Regions from separate parts of the Homo sapiens genome. Here regions 2 and 3 are each linked to region 1. The links come from fine-mapping of genetic effects on gene expression. A gene starts in region 1. Each other region holds a variant in brackets. All regions are shown on one strand. Distances are between the middles of the regions.

The links.
Region 2: its variant is fine-mapped to the expression of CISD1 in whole blood (INTERVAL, PIP above 0.99).
Region 3: its variant is fine-mapped to the expression of CISD1 in fibroblasts (GTEx, PIP 0.98).

What each region holds. Positions count from the first base shown.
Region 1 is chr10:58,265,138-58,273,415 of GRCh38, forward strand. It overlaps CISD1 (CDGSH iron sulfur domain 1), which reads left to right and starts at 4,025. Exons shown (of 3, transcript NM_018464.5): 1 at 4,025-4,167. The coding sequence starts at 4,137. IPMK (inositol polyphosphate multikinase) reads right to left here and starts at 2,757. Exons shown (of 6, transcript NM_152230.5): 1 at 2,285-2,757. The coding sequence starts at 2,474. RefSeq lists enhancers at 1,928-2,037, 1,992-2,286, 3,731-4,287, 4,133-4,182 and silencers at 2,538-3,047, 3,753-3,812, 4,403-4,452.
Region 2 is chr10:58,380,803-58,389,080 of GRCh38, forward strand. TFAM (transcription factor A, mitochondrial) reads left to right here and starts at 4,608. Exons shown (of 7, transcript NM_003201.3): 1 at 4,608-4,846; 2 at 5,418-5,536; 3 at 7,388-7,458; 4 at 7,868-8,017. The coding sequence starts at 4,746. RefSeq lists enhancers at 4,059-4,158, 4,352-5,008 and a silencer at 4,289-4,668. The variant G/C (reference allele first, on the strand shown) is at 5,035.
Region 3 is chr10:58,201,407-58,209,406 of GRCh38, forward strand. The region is part of intron 4 of IPMK (inositol polyphosphate multikinase); the gene reads right to left. Among named protein-coding and RNA genes, the nearest start is that of IPMK, 62 kb to the right of the region's middle. The variant G/A (reference allele first, on the strand shown) is at 4,347.

The DNA.
Region 1 (8,278 bases):
CTAATATATGCTTGTTACTTAGCATATATAACAAGATCTATTTTTCTGTTCAAGCACCTTTGTTCTATCAAGTTCCATGAGTTTAATTTTTAAACTAACAAAGCCAACAACTCCTTTTTGGAAATAGGTAAAATAATTCTAAATGGAACATTTCTGGTTACTTACTGATAGTAACACAAATTTAAAAACAAAACAAATACCAACATAACGTCCTTAACAAAGCTTATCCTGAGAATTATTTCAATTGACAGACCAAAGCATGATCTAAATGATGTAAACTGTACATGACTTATGACAGTGGAGAAACATAATAAAACTGTTGAACTTTGAATTAGTGACCATCTTATCCATTTTACAAATAGGGAATATATCATCAGTCAAGTATCCTTTTACTTAACAATACAGTCAGGATTGTATAACTATCTGAGAATTAAATTCAACAAATATTAGGTTGCTAGCACAGTATGTTTAAGCCATTCTACTATGGTGACACAAACACTGTCCCTACTCAAAAGACCCTTATGAAATTGCAAAAAAAGTTTATTTTACACTGAATGCCATAATAAAATTAAGGACTACTACCTCTAGAATCTAAACTTTTCCATTAATTAGGCAATTTGGGTGACAAATTAACTTTTCAGCCACTATTTGCAATCACTCTGAATGGGATCACTATTACATACTGTAATAAGCAGTGGTTACACTCTTAAGTGACAATTATTTAGATTGTTTTTATGTTGAGATTTTTAAAATCTATTCTCCTTTGCATATAAGTCAATCTCTAGGGACCTTTAGGGAAACATTTACTTTTTCAGGCATCTAGAATATTATTAGGAATAGTAAAATCACAATGTATTAATATAAATCAATAGGCATTCCTCTATTAACAGAAACCCCATGAGTACTCTCAAATTCTCATTACAAGACACTGGCACACAGGAGGAAATGTCTATGCTGAGCAACTTGAGGACGTTGTTTCTTTACCTCGGTATACTAAAACAACTGTCAATTTTCACTATTCAATATTTCCTGAGTGTTACTGATTCCCAGTCCGTGCACAAGGCTATGAGAGAATACAGATTCTCTCTCTAACATCTAGGAATTCACAATTCAGTGGGGAGAAAGGCACACAAACAAAGTAGGTAAAAATAAAAGTAGTGGAAAATGTCGCTTTGAGAAATAGCATATACTCAAATTAATACTTATCCATTTTCTAAAAGCCTTGAGTTGTTTCAGCAAACACAATACATGGTGAAAAAATACAGTACTCAAAGGAAGAACTCTTGGTTTCACAATTCTTAACATATTGTAACGTGACTTCAGGCACGTCATTCTTAACCAGGGTTGGCCTTAGTCACCTCGTCTAAAAATGTCAGTATTAGCAACCTAAACCCGAATCGTTTTACCGGCATAAACTAAATTGTCTCTAGTGGCTCTTCCGGGTCAAAGATCCACAATACTCACATACTCATCCATCAGATTACCCCAGTAATCATGGCCCAGGGAACCACTACGGGTAAACTAGATGAATTAGAGTTCCTAAACTGAGATAGGCTTTAAACTTGTGAACTCAGAAAATGTATTACAGTGGCCATGATACAGCCTTATAAAATGAACAAGAATAGCTGAACATTTTGTGTATCATTCTGGTACAATATGCGTGTGAATTTCCCACCAGGAATCCGAGTTTCTGCACTACTGGAACCACGCCTCCCAGAGAAATCAAGGAGACACCAGAAAAACCTCCTCAAGGGACAGGGAAAAATCACGGACAAGCTTTCTTCCCTTCTCACCTCCCCCTAAAAAAGCCCAGTGTTTTTCTTCCCCTCCAGCTATGCAGCTGCACCCAGCAGAGAAGTACTAGATTAGCATCATCTGCATTTCATTCCTTTTCTTTTGCAATAGCTACTCGCCTATAATAAACAGACCTTGTGCTCAAGGGAGAATTTACTTCCCCGTCCAGTAAAAATGAAGTTCCTTATTTTCACTAACAACGCCGTCTCCAATCAACACCCAACCTCCCTGGGGGGTGGGTGAGACCAGACACGCCTCTCCCTGCCACCCGTGCTGCAAGCCTGACGACCCACACCCTAGGAATTGTCCCACTTTCCGAGCCCCTTCTGCTCGAGTGGCGAGGCTTCGGGGGACAGCGGAAGAGGCCAGGGATTTGGCGTGCACACCAGGGGGGCGTCCAGGCAGGCCCGAGAGCGCTAGGCTGCCTCCGCTGACAGGGGGCTCGCACAGGCGGAAGGGGAGCGGCGAGACCTATGCCACCCCCACTTACCCACTTTGTCCTTCCCGTACATGTGCCCGGCCACCTGATGCGAGAGGGGCACGCAGCCGTTGAGGAAGCGGAGTCTGCCGCCCGCCGGCTGCGGGGTGCCCTCAGGGGTGGACTCGATCGCCGGTGAGGTCCGCATTTCTGGGGGGCCCGGCGCCTCGACCCGGAGGGGGGATGGTGGCTCTGTTGCCATAACGGAGAGCAGAAGCGGTAACGGCAGCGAGAGTAGGAAAAAAAATAGGGCGAGGGAGGGGGCGCCGGAGAACCCGAGGGTCGCTCAGGCTCGGGCGCGAGGAGGCCCGGGGGTTCCCGCGGCTGGTGCCCTCTGAAGCGCGGGGAGGGGGCCCATGACGCCGCCGGGGCGCGGGCGCTCCTCTGCCCAACTCTCGGCGGAACGCGGCTCCCGGCTCCTGTTCCTCTGCCGCCGCAGCCGCCGGCCCCGGCGCTGCCCGGTAGACAGAACCGAGCCGAAGAACAGCAGCAGCGGCGCCCCGCGCTCCCTGGGGCCCTGACGGCGACGGCGGNCCCACCTCCTGCGCCCCCGCCCCCTCCCGCCGTCCTCCAGTCCCCTCAGCTGCCGCGCGCGCGTCACCGCCGCCCGCACCGCCGCTGCCGCCGCTACTGAGCATGCCCAGAGGCCGTCCAACGGGATTCCGGCCCCCCAAGTCAGCGGGGCGGGCGCGCCGTGCTGCCAGGACCTGGCGACGGCGACAGGGATAGGGCGAGCGCACCCCTGTTTCTTCTCACCCCCACCCCGCGGGCATTTCGAAGTCACGCGTGCTGCTGTGGCCTCATTCATTCAACACGCTTCTCAGCGCGTCAGCTCAGAGAAGCCAGGGACTTCTAAGTGTGCGGAGCAGTCCGGCAAGAATTGGAAGGCACTAGCATTGCCAAGGGTGGCTCTAAAGGCCACCCCTAACTGCACTCAACTCCCTCCAACTCCCACCCCGCACGAAAACAACAGAAGTAAAAGCAGGCAGCTTATTAGAGATGCGCCTTCAAAATACCCTTCGAGTTAATCTCAGCCCCCCTCCCCGGATTGCTGTCTCTAAACCGCTCTTACCAAAAAGTAAAACACATAAAAATAAAATAAAATTGGAACCGACACGAATTTCAGACTGTAGAAGACAGAGAAAACTTCTAATTTTTTTAAGTGAACATGTTTTTTAAAGAAAGGAGCAAGTTTTTTCTCTCCCACTCGACCTTTAAGATAGTGCAGGTTCCAAGGTCCTGAGTAGATAATTATATCAAAAGCAGAAAGGGATGGACACCGGTAGCTACGCGAGGTTCTGGAATGGGACTCAGTCATTGATTCCTGTATGTCCGCCGCTGGCATGTTATATAAAAGCTGGACCTGGCCTTGAAGGTAAATCGTCACAAGCCCCGAGCAAGAAAAACTGGGGTCAAATCTTAGGTATCTGATTAAAGTAAGTGTCCTATTAACACCTGTTTCTGCCCCCAGAAGCCCACACACCTGGAAGAGACGTAAAATCTGGCCTGGATTCCCTAATCCCAGGGCCCTGCCCCTCGGCTTCAGGGCCCCGCCCCTCGGCTTCAGGGCCCCGCCCCTCGGCGTTGCGCAAACTCTGTTGCTACCTAAGTCTTTTCCTCCTCCCACCTCCCGTAGCTGTCAAAATCCGGAGTCCAGACTTCCTTATGGCCAGGACAGCTCCACGCATGCTCAGCACCTACCAGGGTCGAGCTCACACACGTGCCTACGACCCGCCGCGGCGCCTGCGCGGTAGCATCGCGGAGTCGGTGCTTTAGTACGCCGCTGGCACCTTTACTCTCGCCGGCCGCGCGAACCCGTTTGAGCTCGGTATCCTAGTGCACACGCCTTGCAAGCGACGGCGCCATGAGTCTGACTTCCAGTTCCAGCGTACGAGGTGAAGTGGGGCCTGGGAGCGGGTGAGGCTGGTGAGGCTCAGCGGTTGCCGCGCCCGCAGTTCGACTGGGTTGTTTTACCACTGCCCTACGCGCCCGCCGGTCCTATAACCTTGAGATGCAGAAGGGCAAGCGCTCGGCCCGGCTGCGGGCTCCGGGCCGGACAGCGAAAGGGGGCGAGGTCAGGGATGGATTGATGGTTTGGGGCCATGCCGGACCAGAGTCCACGTTTACCCCAGCTAGCCAAACCCTAACACCTAATGACCGCGCCGCTAGCTTTTCTTGTTCACCCCTAAGACGCTTTCATGTCCTTAAGTCACATAGCCTGGAAAAGAAGGAAAGGTGGGAGAAAACAACAGCAAACCTGTTTGCCCTTCTCATGTTTCAGTCAGCGTCGGGCCACAACGTCGATTTCCTGCAATCCTGAAGCATTGCGTGACTAATCACATCTTAGTTTTGCAGATTTTTTTTTAAGGGATGAAACGCAATCCGAGGTTTTCAGTTTTCCCGGTTTTTTATTATTCCTCTGGCATCTGACACTCGGTGGCAGTAGTCCAGGATAAAGGATTGAAAACTGCGTTCGTTGAACCTTCAGCTTTCTGAGTCTTCTTTCCCCTGTGCTAGTACCTAGCGTTTGGAAACAGTATTTCGCAGAAAGTCCCGTTATAATAAAATTAAGAGACTTTATAAGCAGTCATTTAATGTGGAGTTTCACTTTATAACCATTCTTGGTGATGTTATAATTGTTAATATAATACTGTGTACCAGACACACAATATATGTGATCTTTGCCCCTCTATAAAACGCCACTTCGCAAGGTTTTGAGTAAAGGCAAAGAGACTGTCTAGAGGTTAATTAAAAATACGTTCAGTAAATATTGAACATCTGTAGTGCCAGGTAATAAAAAGTCCCTACTAACTTGAGCCCTAATTTTTTAATAGGTAGTTTCCAAAAATTGGAGAGTTCCACTTCTGTTGACAAAATTTACCTGGCTAAGGGTGATATTCCATGACATTTCGAAGTTACTAATGATATAGAGATTATTATTTGCAAAAATTATATTAAAGGATACTCATCTTGAGACTTTTTTTAATAGAGGCAGCTTGGTGCATTTAAAATAGGGTGTGATTTTTGTTTTTGTTTTTTAAAAAACTATATTCTCTTGGGATTAAGACTTGTGAAATGAGATGTTCATGTGACTTGTGCCGCTGATATTTTTAATTTTACAGGAAGACTGCACATGTTTGAGGTGGACCAAAAGATTCCACAGTGTGTGTTTAAAATACGGGATCATTTTGTGTACATGAACACTAAACTCTATTTAGGTTGCATATTATTGAAATGTGAAACGGGTGAACCCCTTAGGACTTACCGCTATCTGCAGGCTGGTCTGCAGGATTTCTTTTTTAGACAAGACAAGGTTTTTTGTTTTGTTTTGTTTTTCAAGTCTAACCATAGGGGAATTCAAAGGCAACTTTCCCAATCATTTTCCATTGCCTAAGGAATAGGAAATCACTGAAGCAGGTTATTGGCTTCAACTGGAAGTATTCAACTTTGTTAGGAGGAGTGATTATTTTTTGAGACAGAGTCTCACTCAGTGGCCCAAGCTGGAGTGCAGTGTTGTGATCATAGCTCACTGCAACCTTGAACTTCTGGGCCCAAGCCATCCTTTCTCCTTGGTCCCCTGGCTTCCCAAAGTGCTGAGATTACATATGTGAGACACCACACGTTGCCATGACTATTTTTTTTTTTTTTGAGGCGGAGTCTCGCTCTGTCGCCCAGGCTGGAGTGCAGTGGCGGGATCTCGGCTCACTGCAAGCTCCGCCTCCCGGGTTCATGCCATTCTCCTGCCTCAGCCTCCCAAGTAGCTGGGACTACAGGCGCCCGCCACTACGCCCGGCTAATTTTTTGTATTTTTAGTAGAGACGGGGTTTCACCGTTTTAGCCGGGATGGCTCTCGATCTCCTGACCTCGTGATTCGCCCGCCTCGGCCTCCCAAAGTGCTGGGATTACAGGCGTGAGCCACCGCGCCCGGCCGACTATTTTTTATTTCACCAAAAAGCATGCAAGTTGTCATGAGGACTGTAGGGAGAGGCCCAAAGCCTTTGTAAATCTCTTCTACCAACATTTTCCTCCTCAATATAGTAGTAGGTAGGCAAGGTAGGGAAAGAGAATGTCGAGGGGATTTAACTTTTAATGTTTAGATCACACACAAGTTTGGTTCTCTTCTCAAACTTTAAACCAAGTTTATTCCTACAGATTGAAAATCAATTTAGATCTTTTAATTGGGGGAAAGATATCATGTCTCTTCTCAATTAAATGAATTTGTAATTATAAAGGGTTTAGAATGATATGTGACAGTGGTAAGCACTATATAAATATATGTTAAATATAAAGTGTGTACGTGTATGCAGAACTCTTGTTCATCATCAGAAGAAAAATAAAAGGTAGTTTATAAAAAAAAATTTAACGGGAATCAGGCCAGGACTGGAATCAGGCAGAGGCAGTGAGAATGAATGATTGGAACTGAAATACTCTTAAGATCCTGATCATTGAGATAGCTCTTGATACCAGTATGGTCGATAAGACCATTAGTTTATTATATTTTCTAGTACTAAGTGGCCTTCACTGCCTACTCGTCCAGTCTCTTATGATTCCTCCTCATATCCAAATAGATGACCTTTCTGAACATCATCCTGCTCCTTGATAACTCTAGCACTCATTGATCACTCTCACCCTTAACCCTTTCTCTTCTATTTGCAAGGAAGATGTTAACTCTTAGGCTGTTCTCTCTCCATGTCCTCCAGATGCCGTTTTCTTTTGCTTAAATCTTTGCCTCAGTGATATCTGTTGTTCGTAAATATTTAGTGCCTCATAAAGATTTTCTTCAGCCTTAAGTCACTCATAATTCACCCTCATCTTTAAAAAAAAAAAAAAGCCAACTATACCAGGTAATTTTGAAAGGCATCCCTTAACCTGCCTTCCCCTGAAATCACTTTTTTTTTTTTACTTTACCCTCAAGTTGCAACATAGGGATTTGTCTGTTCATCTTGTACTTCATTATCTATCCCAAACCCTGATCACTACAACGCTTGTAACCAAAATTACATTTCATAAATTCTTATTCTCTTTCATATTCTTGTGTATTTTATTGAAACTAATTTTCTAATTCATTTAACCACAACATAGGAAAATATTGTTTTGGTTCACTAAATTCACCAAGTCATTTAAAGTCATTATTTAAGGGTTTTTGTCTGAAAAGAAAGGTATGGATCATACTGAAAATAAAAGGGATAGCTCCTATAAGTTATAAACAATAAATGAAAAATAAGAGGGCTGGGTGCGGTGGCTCACGCCTGTAATCTCAGCACTTTGGGAGGCCAAGGCGGGCAGATCATGAGGTCAGGAGTTCGAGACCAGCTTGGACAACATGGTGAAACCCCCGTCTCTACTAAAAATACAAAAAATTAGCCAGGCATGGTGGCACGCATCTGTAGTCCCAGCTACTTGGGAGGCTGAGGCACGAGAATTGCTTGAACCCAGGAGGCAGAGGTTGCGGTGAGCTGAGATTGCACCACTGCACTCCAGCCTGGGCAACAGTGCGAGACTCCATCGCAAAAAAAAGAAAAATAAGGGGGGAGTTTGGAGCTATAGACTGGCCAAATTGATGGTGGTTAGAGCTAATTGAGGGTAAATGGGATTCATTATAGTATTCCCTGTGTGTGTCTGAAATGGTCCATAATAAAGTTTTTTTAAAACATAGCTTCTTATATATACCTGAAGTTTTTTGTTTGTTTGTTTGTTTGTTTTTAATATATGTATCAGGGAGTAAATTCCACACCCTGATACAGCAGGTTAAGAAGAAGGTAAAGATAAGTCATTTAGTATAAGAGCAATGCAGTGTAAGGATAGAAAAATTGCACATAGGAATTGCAAATTTAAATTAGTCATCCATTATTTCTTTTGACTCAACCAACATTATTGAATATCACTTATATGCCAGGCCTTGAGAAAAAAAAAAATTACCAGGCACGGCCTGCCAGCCTATGGGAGATCTAAGGGAGGGAAGGGTTTAAGCACAGCTCCCCTCCCCCTCTCCTCATAGAAGAGGAG
Region 2 (8,278 bases), 120 kb after region 1:
TGTGCCATTGCCCTGGCTTAAGATATTATTTTAGTAAGCCACTCAGATAAATAAGAAAGCATTTATGGGGACTGGAAATAATAGAATGTGAGCAGGTGTTTAAGAAAACTACCGCTTCATGACTGATTTACCTATCCTGTATCTACGTAGAGTCATATATAACTTCAAAGCTGCAAACTGTGGATTCAGAGGTGGCAATTTTTGTTATTAACATGCTAACAAGGAAGATATCCTTCCTATTATTTATACAGTTTTCATAGCTGTACAGTAGAAATCATAGCACCTTAGAGGATTTATGAAAGGATTAGTGATAATGTATGTAAAATACTTGGCATGTAGTTTAGCAATAAATTATAATTATTACCATTTGTATTGATCAGATACTTTACCGTGGTATGAGGGCAGACACATTATATTGTCCTATTAACAGCATTATTCCTTCAATACAATCATTCTGGATTTCTTCCGATCTTTAAGTTAGCTTTCAGTAATATGAAGTCAGCTTTCAGTAACATCCAGTAATATGAATTGGGGTATTATACATTTGCATAAAATTATAGCTGTTCTTTTTGCTTGTCCTACCTCCTGCTGACTCATAGAATCAGCTTTAAAATAGACAAGCTACATTTATTTTTTGTAATGCTGCTACAGCAATGGCTTAAAATAATTCTGATATGCCCTTAATAATTAAGGCTGCATGCAGACTTTGTTCTAATTGAGAAATATTTCACAGATAATAATAATTTCGGGTAGCTGGGAACTATTAACATGCAACAGGTCTTTCTTCTAATTTCTCTATTTCTCTTTCCCTTCCTTCTTTTTGTATATTGATTTTAAAGGCAAACTCCAGTGGCATGAAAACAGACTCTATGTCAATAAAAATGGTTTGAAAGAAAAAATTATACAAGTAGTTTTCCATACATAATTTATTAAAATCTTGACTCACAGAAAAAATAAGCTAGGAGATATTCAAGGTGTAAAATTTTTTCTCATTGCTGCAATGCACTGTTATACTTTTATTCCTTTTGTGTCTTTATGCTTTGTTCCCCCAATCACAGTGTCAGCTCTTTGGGGCAGGATCAATATCTTATGCTTTTTGTGCCCCTTTCAAGTGCTTATCACAGTGCTTTGTAATTGCTTATGAGGAAATTGTCTTTAAATGTGGTGTCCATAGTATGATCTTATTTCCAGAGATATTTTACTTACAAGTTCAGAATCACATCTATTTATCCTGCTAAAACCTATTAGGTAATTGCTCCTGTTGTAGCTAAATTATTTATCTATTATAATTACAAAAGCCAAGACTGCTTTCTCTTAGCAACATTTTTTCTTCATTTGAGTGATATCTGTGCATCTAACTCCATTATTCAGCAGGGAATTATCCAGGTTTCTGGCTGCTCCTGCTGTTTATTGGCACTACCTTCTGCTTTACCAATGTGCAAGTATCAATGAACCATAATCATTACTTTCATGTGTATATATATTTCAGAATTTTACATGGTTTCCATCTCCACACACTGGCAAATGTGTCCTTCTATTGGCAAATGACACTTCTAACAGGTAGTTGTTCTCTATGGGGCTAAATTTATATATAAATAATTTGTGCAGATGCTAATCTTTTCACACTATTCATCTCTCTCTGTGTATCTATATGTCTGTCTGTCATCTATTATCTATCTATCTATATATCTGTCAGTTCACCTATCCATCCGTTTGTCCCTTCATCCATCTATCATGCTCAGTGTACTGTGCTAGGTACAATAGGGGATAAAAGAAGGCATAAGATTTAGTCTTTTCCTAATATAACTTACCATCTATTGTGGAAAAAAATATGTATACATAGAGAAAAAGATCAGAAACCAGAGTGGTACATGATGTCACAAGTAAGTGATGTGAGCTCACACACTATAGATGATCCACTAAAGATATTTTGGGCTGGAATGATGTGGCATGTTCACTGAGTCTGAGTGATCTGATACAAACGAAAAGCACAGGACAATGAATTGCAATTTTTACCTACACAACTTACTGTTGGAAGCTTATGAGTTGGGCTTTCTGAACTTCATTTTTCTCATCTGGAAATTGGGAATAATGATCATGACAATACCTTCTCTACCTTTTCCTTTGATATTTGAATCATACAGTCAAATAAAGTTATTTAAAAATTTCTGAAAATATTAAAGTGCAATCCAACTTCAGGGTGTGTTGTTTTAATTTTTCATCAACTACCACAATGTGTCTGCTCAAATATTACTAATTTAAGAAATATTAAAAGTTCAACAGGAAGAAAGGAGCAATGCTGGTTATGTAATATGTATGTTTGCATGTTAACAGGAAAAGAAAAATTTGTCAGTAGCATGAAATCTGCCAATGGTGGGAGTATTTACACCATAGAACTCAGCAAACACCACAAATTGGGGCTTTCTTTTTTGGAGAGCTATTTACCAGCATATTACTGGCCTGAACAAAAGCAACAGCAATGGGACTAGAGAGAAGGAAATACATACTAGAGGGATGAATGAGGCAGAATCAGCAATACTCATCATCAGTTGGTTAATGGCAGGTGGAGTGTCAATGGGGAGATTCTAAAATGATTTATCAAGTTATTGGCTCAGATGATTAAAGAGGAAAACATGTGCATCTTACCAAGAGAAGGACTTCAAGATGGGTGAAAGATAGTGGATTTTGTTCAGGGAATGTTGAAATTGAAGTACTTGTGGGACATGATGGTGAAAATGTACAGAAGACAGTGGTTATGTGGATACGGAACTCAAAGGAGAGGACTGGGTTCAATATGGCAGTCATGAGGCTATAACTAATAGCTGAAGTCATGGGACTAGAGAACTTTACAACAAAGGGACCCTGGGAAAGGCTGCAGTAAGTCTTCATGTTTTATAAAGTAATTATATACCATGTCTTTTTGTTAAAAGACAGTTTTAGTGGATAAAGTTATGTTTCTTTGTAAATTCTGCTTTTAGAAGTAAAATTATCACTGCAATGTAAATGAGTTTTAAGGAAGATTGGTATCTGATGAAAAATGTTATGGATTTGATTTTTAAGGTCTTTACAGCAAGATTTATACAAATGAAAGTCGAAAACAACAAAAAGTTTAATATCCAAAAGAAGTTTATGTCAAACATTTGAAAGAACAAAAACATTCTAGAACAAAAAGGGAAACAAATTATTTTAGAAATCAACTTAAATGTAACTTCTGTCTGAGCCCCATGTTGTAATTATTTGCTACTTTGCCTCACCTTTGGGGCTGGGGGCGGGGGGTGGGCTGGGGCACAACACTGTGTCTTTTATCTATGTTTAGGGCGTTGTACATAGTATATACTCAGGAAAAAAACCTGTTTATTCCATGCCAGAATGGGAGGTTTGAACAGATGACTTGGAAGGTCCCTTTCAACCCTGGGAGTCTATAAAAGGGAAGTGGTTATTACCGCTTAAAAGAAGAAGTAGGCTTAGTCCTACTTCCAGAGAGCCAATGTTTTCATAGTTACAGAAAGGTAAATAGACTGTCAGCTCAATATGACACTGGTAAGAATTTTCTAACAATTACGGCTATCCAACAGAAGAAAGGCTGTCTCAGAAGGTGGTTAGCTCTGAAACAACTGGTATTTAAGGGCTGGAAGGACCCTTAGGTATCTTTAGGTCTTCCTAATCTTTTTCATGCCATTGCCTATACAGAAAATGGTATTTCTATAACACAAATAAAAAAATTATACAGCAATTTTTGACACATCAATGTCTCAAGGCATACTTGTCACACGTTCTCAGGGCTTTGGCTGGGAAAACTGATTTAGTCTAACATCCTCGTTTGCAGAGGGGGAAACTGAATCTTAACGAGGGAATGCAATATTCCCAAGTCAAGACGTTAATGTTAATACTGGAACTAGAAGAATTGAGACTAGCGACTGTGGACAACTAGCCAGTTTCCTCTGCTCAAATTAAGCAAGCTGGAGGCCAGACTGAAAGACTGCAGTAGATGGTAGAATAAACAGTCTAAAGCTATATTGCTTTAAATGTGGTCTCAAGACCACCGACATTAGAACTTGTTAAATTCTGGGGAACTCGCTAAAATGAAGATTAATGGGCCCCACATAGACACACGGAATTAAGCTCTGCGGTAAGGCCTTGGAATCTGCATTTTTAGGTTTGCGAATCCCCGCCTCTCCCGTTACTATTTCTGAACTCCGAGCTCCAGCCCTGGCTTGAACTGAGACGCTCCGCTGGGCGCGCAGCAGCCGCCGATCGGACCTCGGGGTCCTGGATGCAGGACTGTCTGTTACGTACAGCCCTTGTGACCGTCACGGGCGGACACCGGCCAACGCCGGGTTGGGGTGAGGCCGCCGCCGCGGTCCCTCCATCACCCTCCTGGCCCGGCAGAGGAACCCACTGCTCCGGGCGGCCGGGGACAGAGGTGGCTCAACAGCGCCGCCTCGAAGCCAGAGCCCTCCGCAGGCTAGAGGATTGCGGTTTCCCTTCATCTCCGCGGCTCTTATTCCTCCCCCGCAAGGCCGCCCACCGGGGTACGCTCTCCCGCGCCTGCGCCAATTCCGCCCCGCCCCGCCCCCATCTACCGACCGGATGTTAGCAGATTTCCCATAGTGCCTCGCTAGTGGCGGGCATGATAACACACGCCGGAGGGTCGCACGCGGGTTCCAGTTGTGATTGCTGGAGTTGTGTATTGCCAGGAGGCTCTCCGAGATTGGGGTCGGGTCACTGCCTCATCCACCGGAGCGATGGCGTTTCTCCGAAGCATGTGGGGCGTGCTGAGTGCCCTGGGAAGGTCTGGAGCAGAGCTGTGCACCGGCTGTGGAAGTCGACTGCGCTCCCCCTTCAGGTAGGCCCGCTTGCCTGTGCCCTAGGGGCAGCAGGGCCCAGGACGTCCCGGGGTTGGAATGTAGACCCTATCCTTCACTTTCTGCCCCTCCTAGGAGTTCAGAGTCACCCTGGTTCTTTGATTCAGACCGCGACCTTGCCAAGGGGACGGTGGCCTTGAGACCAGGCCTTTATTTACTCTCTTAATAC[G/C]CCGTACCTTCTTGCTACCCTCCACTCGCTTCTCCCATCCCTCCTCACTGTCCAGCTTTGGATCCTTTCCGCCTCCTCTGCGAATTCGCGCCGAGTCTCCGGCCATCATCTAGGCATTGAGGAGGCGGGGCCCAGGAGCTGGAGTATAGACGCTTTCCTTCACTCCCTGCCCTTCCTAGGAGGTAAGGGCTTTGAGACTTCAGTCCTGCAGACGCTCCCCTCCGTTTAGGACAGGGTTTTAATAAGTCTCTAGCATTCTTGTTGAAGGCGTTGGATACATAGTATCTTGATGACATTTCTTATTTGGGATCTGTGTTCATATACATGTGAATATTGACAGTTAAACATCTGACACTGGTTATTTTCTTTTTGTTTATATGTAGTTTTGTGTATTTACCGAGGTGGTTTTCATCTGTCTTGGCAAGTTGTCCAAAGAAACCTGTAAGTTCTTACCTTCGATTTTCTAAAGAACAACTACCCATATTTAAAGCTCAGAACCCAGGTAAGGAGTTTTGGGGCATATACCCTTTTCTCATGTAATAAAAATGCCATTAAGCAGTTAAATACCAATGTTGAATTGCAGTGCTAAAGCATTCAGTGACTGCAGGAACAATCATTTGATGTCTGTAAAATAGGAAGTTCTATTTTATACCAAATGGAAATGCTTTAAATATAAATGAGAACTAGTAAATGGTATTTTAAAAATAACGTATAGTGTAGAAAGCACCCTAGGAAGAGGATAAAAAAGCTGAATTTGGGGCCTTGTTGCCTTTGGTCTAGAGGACCACTGATGAATTATTTTCTCTTGCCTAGCTCCTCCTTTTTCTGGCTCAGGGAATTGTTAATAAAGTTGCAACTTCTGTGGAAGCATCCATAAACTGTAAGTTCTGTAGAACTGTAAAGTTCTATGCAATTTACTGCTAATTTCAAGAGCTTTCAAGATAAGAAAGGATAAACCTTTTCATCATAGGAGTTCAGAGCCACTCTGGTTCTTTGATTCAGACCTCGACCTTGCCAAGGGGATGGTGGGTTGTAAAGGATAAATCCTTTCTTGTCTTGGGTTCCTAAAAAAAAAACATTTCCAGGTAGGATGTTTGTTGACTCTCTAGAAAGCCTCTCGGCGAGAATAAAAAATGCTCACATCAGGCTGGGTGAGGTGGTTCACACCTGTAATCCCAGCACTTCGGGAGGTCGAGATGGGTGGATTGCTTGAGCCCAGGAGTTCGAGAACAGCCTGGGAAACATGGAAATCCTGTCTCTACCAAAAATACAAAAATGAGGTGGGCATGGGGGCGCAGTGCCTGTAGTCCCAGCTACTTGGGAGGCTGTGGTGAGAGGATCACTGGATCCCAGGAAGTTGAGGCTGCAGTGAGCCATGACTGCTCCACTGCACTCCAGCCTGGGTGACAGAGCGAGACCCTGTCTCAAAAAACAATAATAATTTTAAAAAAAAGCTCACATTATAGGTAAGGAGTTAGTTTCAGAGACATGCTTAAGTACCCACATCTTTTAAATGTAAGAGTTAGTACTAACAGGTATTTTTAAAAATCAATTAATTGCACGCCATCATTCCGGTTAAGATGAAGAAGGAAGTGGAGAATAACAGATTGAATTTCGAATAGCTTGTTTCCAAATGATATTTCTGTTATTGAAATACGAGGCTGTGTTATATGGATCGAGAATGTATTTTGTTGTTAGCTTTTATAAATTTAGGAATTCCTCAAAGACTTGAAAAAGTGTTTTGCTTGAAATATGGAAGGGAAGTAAAAAACTTGAAGCAATTGATCATCCAGCTTCTTAAACTAGTAATCAGCCTGGTGTGGTGGCTCGCGCCTGTAATCCCAGCACTTTGGGAGACTGAGGCAGATGGATTGCTTGAACTCAGGAGTTTGAGGCCAGCCTGGGCAGCATAGCGAAACCCCGTCTCTACAAAAAATACTAACATTAGCTGGACATGATGGCGCCTACCTGTAGTCCCAGCTACTCGGGAGGCTGAGGCAGGAGAATCACTTGAGCACAGGAGGTGGAGGTTGCATTAGGCCAAGATTGTACCACCGCACTGCAGCCTGGGTGATGGCCTGGGTGACGGACCCTGTCTCAAAAAAAAAAAAAAATCCTAGTAATCAAACTGTTGACTGTTTCTGGTGGTATATGGTATACTCCTTAGTTGTTAGATAATAGACTTTTGATAATGTTGGATAAATTACTTACGTTTAAATTAGTTGGATAAAGGAAAGTTAAATCATTATATTAAGTTATGTGTGGTATGGATTGTGCTTTCCTGGATATCTTTAGAAATTAATCCTGAGAGGTAAAATTGTGGCATCTTTTTTCTTTTTATTTCATTCCATAGATGCAAAAACTACAGAACTAATTAGAAGAATTGCCCAGCGTTGGAGGGAACTTCCTGATTCAAAGAAAAAAGTAAGCACATAAGTTTTCAACATTGCTGACCAGTTATTCTGCAGTTAGGAGCAATTGTCATGTCCTTTAAAGGACCAGATGGATCAGACTTTTTAAAAAATAATCTGTTATCTACAAAGAAACTTTATGTCTTCTCATCTGCATAAATAATGAGAATATGGATGTATGGGGTGGAGGTGAAGAAGTGGCAGTAGTTTGAAAATGGAAGCTGATTACTAAACTCTCACCTTGATTAGTATATATAAGGAAAATGTATGTTTTAATCCATATACATCTCATCCCAGAGCACATTTTCCACCTGGTGATAAAATCTGTCTGTCTGAAGTCATGCAGTTGCCTTTCCCTGGCATGTGCTATGTTGAATTTGCCAGCAATGGTTTGTTGACTTACTTGGGTTTTTTATTTATAGATATATCAAGATGCTTATAGGGCGGAGTGGCAGGTATATAAAGAAGAGATAAGCAGATTTAAAGAACAGCTAACTCCAAGTCAGATTATGTCTTTGGAAAAAGAAATCATGGACAAACATTTAAAAAGGAAAGCTATGACAAAAAAAAAAGTGAGTATCATTGAAATACTTTTTTCTTATGGTAAAGAATTGAGATTTATATAACTATGAATATAGGTAGTTTTCTCTTAATAGGCAAATAAAATATGGTAGAATGTCATCAAGTATTCTTCAGTTAGGCAGAAGTGGGATAGTTCTCTTATGAAAAGTGAGATAGCCACTAGGACCACTTGCCATTGAGTCTGTTTGGAAATCCTTGTTGCTACTTGCAGATGTATCCACATTTAAGGTGTACAGTTCGTAGAACAGTAA
Region 3 (8,000 bases), 64 kb before region 1:
ATCTGTGATTAGTGATCTTTGATGTTACTCCTGTGATTATTTTGGGATGTCACGAAGCACACGCACATAAGATGGCAAATTGGATAAATATGTGTGTCCTGACTGTTCCACTGACCAGCTGTTCCCCCATCTCTCTTCCTCTCTTCAGGCCTCCCTATCCCCTGAGGCACAATATTGAAATTAGGCCAATTAATAATTAGTAACCCTCCAATTAATTAATTAATAACCCTCCAATGGCCTCTAAGTGTTCAATGAAAGGAAATGTCACGTCTCTCACTTAAAATCAAAAGCTAAAAAGTGATTAACTTAGTAAGGAAGGCATCCTGAAAGCAAAGACAGGCCTAAAACTAGGCCTCTTGTGCCAAACAGCCAAGCTATGAATGCAAAGAAAAAGCTCTTGAAGGAAATTCAGAGTGCTAACTACAGTAAACACACAAATGATAAGAAAGTGAAACAGCCTTACTGCTAATATGAAGAAAGTGTTAGTGGTCTGGATAGAAGACCAAACCAGCCACAACATTACCTCAAGTCAAAGCCTAATCCAGGGTAAGACTCTCTTCAATTCTATTAAGGCTGAGAGTCACCATGAGGAAGCTGCGAAAGAAAAGTGCAAACTAGCAAAGGCTGGTTCATAGACCCTAGCAGAAGTTTATGGAAAGACGTTGTTTTTAACCTAAAATGCAAGGTGAAGCATTTAACCTAAAATGCAAGGTGAAGTAGTTGTAGAAGCTACAGCAACTTATCCAGAAGATAACTGATGAAGGTATCTACCCCAAACCACAGATTCTCAATGTAGATGAAACGGCCTTCTATTGAAAAAAATGCCACCTAGGGTTTTCATAGCTAGAGATAAGAAGTCAGTATCTGGCTTCAACGCTTCAAAGGACAGGCTAACTCTCTTATTAGGGGCAAATGCAGCTGGTGACTTTAAGTTGAAGCCAATACTCACTCATTTGTCCTAGAGCCCTTAAGAATTATGCTGAATCTCCCAGCCCTTTGGGAGGCTGAGGCAGGAGGATTGCTTGAGGCCAGAGGACAACTTGAGGCAAGGAGCTCAAGAACAGCCTGAGCATCATAGTGAGACCCCGTTTCTACAAAAAATTTAAAAATTAGTTGGGTGTGGTGGCATATGCCTGTAGTCGCAGCTACTTGAGAGGCTGAGGTGGGAGGACTGCTTGAGCCCAGGAGTTGGGGGCTGCAGTGAGCTATGATTATGCCACTGGACTCCAGCCTGGGCCAAGACCCTGTCTCAAAACAAACAAACAAAAAAATGTGCTGAATCTACTCTGCCTGGGCTCAAAGCCTGGATGACAGCACATCTGTTTATAGCATGGTTTACTGAATATTTTCAGCCCACCATTGAGAACTACTACTCAGAAAAAAAGATTCCTTCCAAAATATTACTGCTCATTGACAGTGCACCTGGTCACCTAACAAGATTACTGATGATGTACAAGGAGATTAATATTGTTTTCATGCCTGCTAATAACATTCCTTTTGCAGTTCTATGGATCAAGGAGTAATTTCAACTTTTAAGTTCTATTATTTAAGAAATACATTTTGCAAGGCTACATACAGCTGCCATTGATAGTAATTCCTCTGATGGACTGGGGCAATGTAAATTGAAAACCTTTTGGAAAGAATTCACCATTCTAGATGGCATAAAGAAGATTTGAGATTCATGGGAGGAGGTCAAAATATCAACATTAACAGGAGTTTGGAAGAAGTTAATTCCAACCCTCATGGATGACTTTGAGGAGTTCAATTCAAGACTTCAGTGGAGGAGGTAACTGCAGATGTGGTAGAAAGAGCAAGTGAACTAGAATTAAGACTGAAGGCTGAAGATGTGACTGAATTGCTGCAATCTCATGATAAACCGTGAATGGATGAACAGTGACTTGCTTGCTTGTTTTATTGATTGGCTGACTGAGATAGGGTCTCGCTCTGTCACCCAGGCTGGAGTGCAGTAGCACGATCACGGCTCACTGCAGCCTCAACCTTTTGTACTCAAGCAATCCTCCCACCTCAGCCTCCTGAGTATCTGGGACTACAGGTGCATGCCACCATGTCTGGCTAATTTTTGTATTCTTTTGTAGACGGGGTTTCACCATGTTGCCCAGGCTGTTCTCAAACTCCTGAGCTCAAGCGATCCACCCGCCTCAGCCTCCCAAAGTGTTGGGATTACTGGCATAAGCCACTGCCCCTGGCCTCAGAGTGGCTTCTCATGGATGAGCAAAGAAAGTGGTTTCTTGAGATGGAATCTACTCCTAGTAAAGATGTTGTAAACATTGTTGAAATGACAATGAACAATTTAGAATATTACATAAACTTACTTGATAAAGCAGTGGCAGGATCTGAGAGGACTGACTCCAATTTTCAAAGTTCTACTGTGGGTAAAATTCTATCAAAGAGCATCACATGCTCCAGAGAAACCTTTCATTTAAAAAAGAGTAAATTTATGTGGCAAACTTCATTGCTGTCTTATTTTAAGAAATTGCTGCAGGCACTCAAACCTTCAGCAGCCACCACCCTGATCAATCAGCAGCCACAGGCAAGAGCCTCTACTAGCAAAAGGAAACAACTCACTGAACGCTCAGATGATCATTAGTATTCTTTAGCAATAAGTATTTTTTAATTAAAGTATACACACTGTTTTTTAAAAAAACATAATGCAACCAGGCACAGTGCCTCATGCCTTTAATAATAGTGCTTTGGGAGGCTGAGGCAGGAAGACTGCTTGAGTGTAGGAGTTTAAGATGAGCCTGGGCAATATGGCAAGACCCCATCTCTATAAAAAATAAAAAATAAGCTAGGTGTGGTAGCAAAGATATTTGTAATAAAAGTTAACATTCTCAACCTAAAAACACGTAAATACGTAACAAAAAAGTATCCAATTTTTTTTTAATGGAAAGAAAACTGAGAAACAGGTGTAGGAGGACAGAATGATAAGCAAAAGCAAGCTCCAGCTTTTCCTCGTACGTCACCATATTAGTTGCTCATTTTGCGACTTCTTTGCAGAAACTGACAAGCTGATCCTAAAATTCATGTGGAAACTAAAGGGATCCAGAATAGCCAAAACAAATTTGAAAAAGAGAGCAAAGCTGAGGCCAGGTGCAGTGGCTCACACCTGCAATCCCAGCACTTTGGGAGGCCAAGGCGGGAGGATCATTTGAGCCCATGAGTTCAAGACTAGCCTAGGAAACAAAGTGAGACACAGTCTCCACAAAATAATTTAAAAATTAGTTGGGTGTGATGGTGTACACTTGTAGTGTCAATTACTTGGGAGGCTTAAGTAGGAGGATTGCTTGAGCCCAGCAGTTCGAGGCTGCAGTAAGACACGATCACGCTACTGCACTCTAGCCTGGATGACAGAGCAAAGACCCAGTCTCAAAATAAAATAAAATAAAATTTAAAAAAGAACAAAATTGGAGGACTCATAATTCAAAACTTACTCCAAAGCAACATTAATCAAAACAGTGTAGTACTTGGCATAAGGATAGACAATATGAAAATGGAAAACATTTATGGTCAAAAATTTAATTCCAACAAGGGTATCAAGAATATTCACTGGGGGAATAACAGTCCTATCAACAAATGGTGCTGGGACAACTGGATATCCATATGCAAAAGAATGAAGTTTGACCCCTTCCTTAAAGCATACAAAAAATTAACTTAAAATGTATCATAAGTCTCAATACAAGAGATAAAATTATAACATTCTTACAAGAAAAATAGGAGTAAATCTTGATGAGTTTGGGTTAGGCAATGGTTTCTTAGATTTTACACCAAAAGCCTAGGTAACAAAAAAAAGTAAATTGGACTTCAAAATTAAAAATTTGGAGGCTTCGACAAATACTATCAAGTAAGAAAATCAGATTAGAAAAAAATTTGCAAATCAAAAGTTTGATGGATTTATATACAGCTCAATAATTAAAAACAAAATGTCTGAATAGACATTTTTCCAAAGAAGACATATGTAGTCAAAAACATTGCACATGAAAAGATGCTCAACATCATTAATCATTAGAGAAAGGCAAATCAAAACCACAAGGAGATGCTACTCGACACCTACTAGGATGGCTTATAGCAGAAAAACAAAAAGGAACAAAGGTTTCAAGAATGTGGAGAAAATGGAACCATCATGAATTGCTGGTGGGAATGTAAAATGAACGGTGAAGCCACCATATGTTCTCACTTACAAGTGGGAACTAAGCTATGAGTAAACAAAGGCATACAGAGTAATACAATTGACTTTAGACACTTGGAAGGAGAAGAGTGGGAAGGGTGGCTAGGGATTTAAAAAACTACATATTAGGTACAATGTACGCTACTCAGGTGATGAGTAC[G/A]CTAAAATCTCAGAATTTACCACTATATAATTCATCCATGTAACAACAACAAAAAACTGTACCCCAAAAGCTACTTAAATAATTTTTTAAAAAATTAAATAACTAAATAAAATGGTAAAGTCACTTTGGAAAAACACTTTGGCAGTTTCTCAAAAAGTTAAACATAAACTTAACCTTAGGACCTACCAGTTGCACAGTTAGGAATCTACCTGAGAGAAATAAAACATATACCTACACAGAAACTTCTATACAAATGTTCATAACAGTTATTAGTAGCCCAGAAGTAGAAACAACCCAAAGTCCATCAATGAATGAATGGATAAACAAAATGTGGTATATCCATATAATCGAATATTATTTGGCAATAAAAAACAAAGTACTGACTTATATGACAACATGGGTGAACTTTAAAAACACGAAACTAAATCAAAGAAGCCAGTCACAAAATACCACACATTGTACTGTAAATTTGATTTATATGAATCGTCCAGAAGGGGCAAATCCATAGAGATAGAAAATAGATTAGTGGTTCCCTAGGGACAGGGAGTTTGGAAGGAAATTGGTAGGGACTGCTAATGTGTATGAAGTTTTTGCAGAAGTGGTAAAAAATACTGTAAGTTGAATGTGGTAATAGTTGCCCAAGTCTATGAATTGATTAAAACCAGTGAACTCTATACTTTAAATGATTAACAGAATGGTATGTAAATGACATCTCGCTAAAGCTATTTTAAAAAACTAAACCTCTTTAAGAAATAAACCTCCATTTATGTCTAGGGAAACAATAAATCCCAGCAGAGTGAAATCATACAATACCCTATTTGCTTATCCTGTCCATGTACCCTAAAGGTAATGCAAACCCAAAGAAGAGTTTACTATTATTATTATTTTATTTCAATAGCTTTTGGGGAATAGGTGGTTTTTTTGTTACATGGATAAGTTCTTCAGTGGTGATTTCTGAGATCTTGGTGCACCTGTCACCCAAGCAGTGCACATTTTACTGAATGTGTAGTCTTATCCCTCACCTGCATCCCACCCTTCCTCAAGTCCCCAAAGTCCATTATCTCATTCTTATGCTTTTGCATCCTCAAAACCTAGCTCCCACTTGTGAGAGCCTATAGTATTTGGTTTTCCATTCTTGAGTTCTCTTAGAATAATGGTCTCCAACTCCATTCAAGTTGCTGCAAATGCCACTATTTCACTCCTTTTTATGGCTGAGTAATAGTCCACCATGTATATATATATATATCACATTTTCTTTTCTTGTTTTGAGACGGAGTCTTGCTCTGTTGCCCAGGCCTGGAGCGCAATGGCACGATCTCAGCTCACTGCAAACTCCGCCTCCTGGGTTCAAGCGATTCTCCTGCCTCAGCCTCCTGAGTAGCTAGGACTACAGGCACCCACCACCAAGCCTGGCTAAATGTTTTGTATTTTTAGTAGAGATGGGGTTTCACCATGTTAGCTAGGATGGTCTCGATCTCCTGACCTTGTGATCCGCCTGCCTCGGCCTCCCGAAGTGCTGGGATTACAGGCAATCACATTTTCTTTATCCATTCATTGGTTGACAGGCATTTAGACAGGTTCCATATTTTTGCAACTGCGAATTGTACTGCTATAAACATGCATATGCAAGTGTCTTTTTCATATAACAACTTCTTTTCCTTTGGGTACCCAGTAGTGGGATTGCTAGATCGAATGGTAGTTCTTTTAGTTCACACTGTTTTCCATAGTGGTTGTATTAGTTTACATTCCCACCAGCAGTGTAAAAGTGTTCTCTTTTCAACACATCCATGTTAAAGTCCATTTGTTCTAGGGTATAGTTTAAGTCCATTGTTTCTTTGTTGACTTTCTGTCTTGATAACCCATCGAGTGCTGTCAGTGGAGTACTGAAGTGCCCCACTATTATTGTGTGTTATCTCATTTCTTAGGTCTAGTAGTAATTACTTTATGAATTTAGGAGCTCCAGTGTTAGGTGCATATATATTTAGGATTGTGATGATCTTTTTGCAATGAATTTCCTAGGATTTCTTTGCGTTTCTTGTAATTGATGTCTAGATCTCTAGCAAGGCCAGAGAAGTTTTCCGTAATTATTCCCTCAGATAAGTTTTCCAAACTTTTAGATTTCTTTAGGAAGACCAATTATTCTTAGGTTTGGCCATTTAACATAAACCCCAATTTCTGGGAGGCTTTGTTCATTTTTCTTTTTTTTTAGATGTAGTCTTGCTTTGGTGCCCAGGCTGGAGTGCAGTGGCGCGATCTCGGCTCACTGCAAGCTCCACCTCCCGGGTTCACGCCATTCTCCTGCCTCAGCCTCCCCAGCAGCTGGGACTACAGGCGCCCGCCACCACGCCCGGCTAATTTTTTGTATTTTTAGTAGACATGGGGTTTCACCATGTTAGCCAGGATGGTCTCGATCTCCTGACCTCGTGATCCACCCGCCTCAGCCTCCCAAAGTGCTGGGATTACAGGTGTGAGCCACCACACCTGGCCCTGTTTTTAAAATTTAAGTTGCTTTCCACCTTTCTCTGGTATCTCCTTGAGTAGCTTAATAATCAGCCTTCTGAATTCTTTATATGGCAATTCAGAGATTTCATCTCGGTTTGGATCCATTGCTAGGGAGCTACTGTGATCTTTTCGGGGTGTTATAGAGCCCTGTTTTTGTCATATTACCAGAATTAGTTTTCTAATTCCTTCTCGTTTGGGTAGACTGCTTCTTCAAATTGTTCTTGAATATATTTTTGATTTGACTGTTTTTTATTTACTTTTTCTCTCTCTCTCTTAAGGATTAGACTTTAATGTTCATTTTAGTCTAAACTGATTCTTGGTACTTGTAGGGATAAAGACTCTGTATGAGTTCCTTAGTTATAGAGAGTCTTTGTGTGCTGGCTTTCCCTAATGCTGGCTATAGTAGTTATATTATTAGTGTGTGGGTGAGTTCACTGTCTCCTATAGAGTTGGAATGGCAGGGATCTCTTGAAGCTTATCTTGTTCTCTCGTGGTGTACACCTTATTTATTTAATTTTTTCCTAAGTTGATGATTCCGGCTTCAGGCCCATAGAGGGGGTATCCCTGCATAGGCAGCAGATGTCGCTAAGGCAGGTGAGTAGATGTAATACCCAATGGTGGGCCAAAGTCCCAGCCTTGATGAGGGTAGCTGGGGTGGCTCTCAATTAGATGTGCTGAGGATTTATCAGAGTGAAGAGTGGGAACTACCACAGCTTCCCTACCAAGTCAGCGGGAAAACTATTTACCTCACAGCCTCACTCCTATACTAGTGTTTCAGCTATTCTGATCAGACAGGCACCTCTTTTCATCTATAGGAATGTTGTTATTCCAAACAGGGAGTGATTGTGACTCTGCCTCTTGTGCAGGCCTGAATCTGGGGGGTGCTCCTCCTGTCAGGCTGCACTTACCCTGGATTATTCCAGAATGGCTTTCTATAGGTGCCTCCATGCTGCATTCCTGTAGGGGATGCCCCAGCTATGTCTACAGTGGAGTCCTGGGGAGAACAAGGACCTCTTCTCCAAGGTCCTTCATGATCACAGTGGCTGCCCGCCTGTTGCAGTGTATATGCAGACTTTCCCAGCTGTACCTAGCACTGCAATTGTGTCTCTGCTGTGAGAAACTACCCACCAGTGAAAAGATCTGGAACTCAAG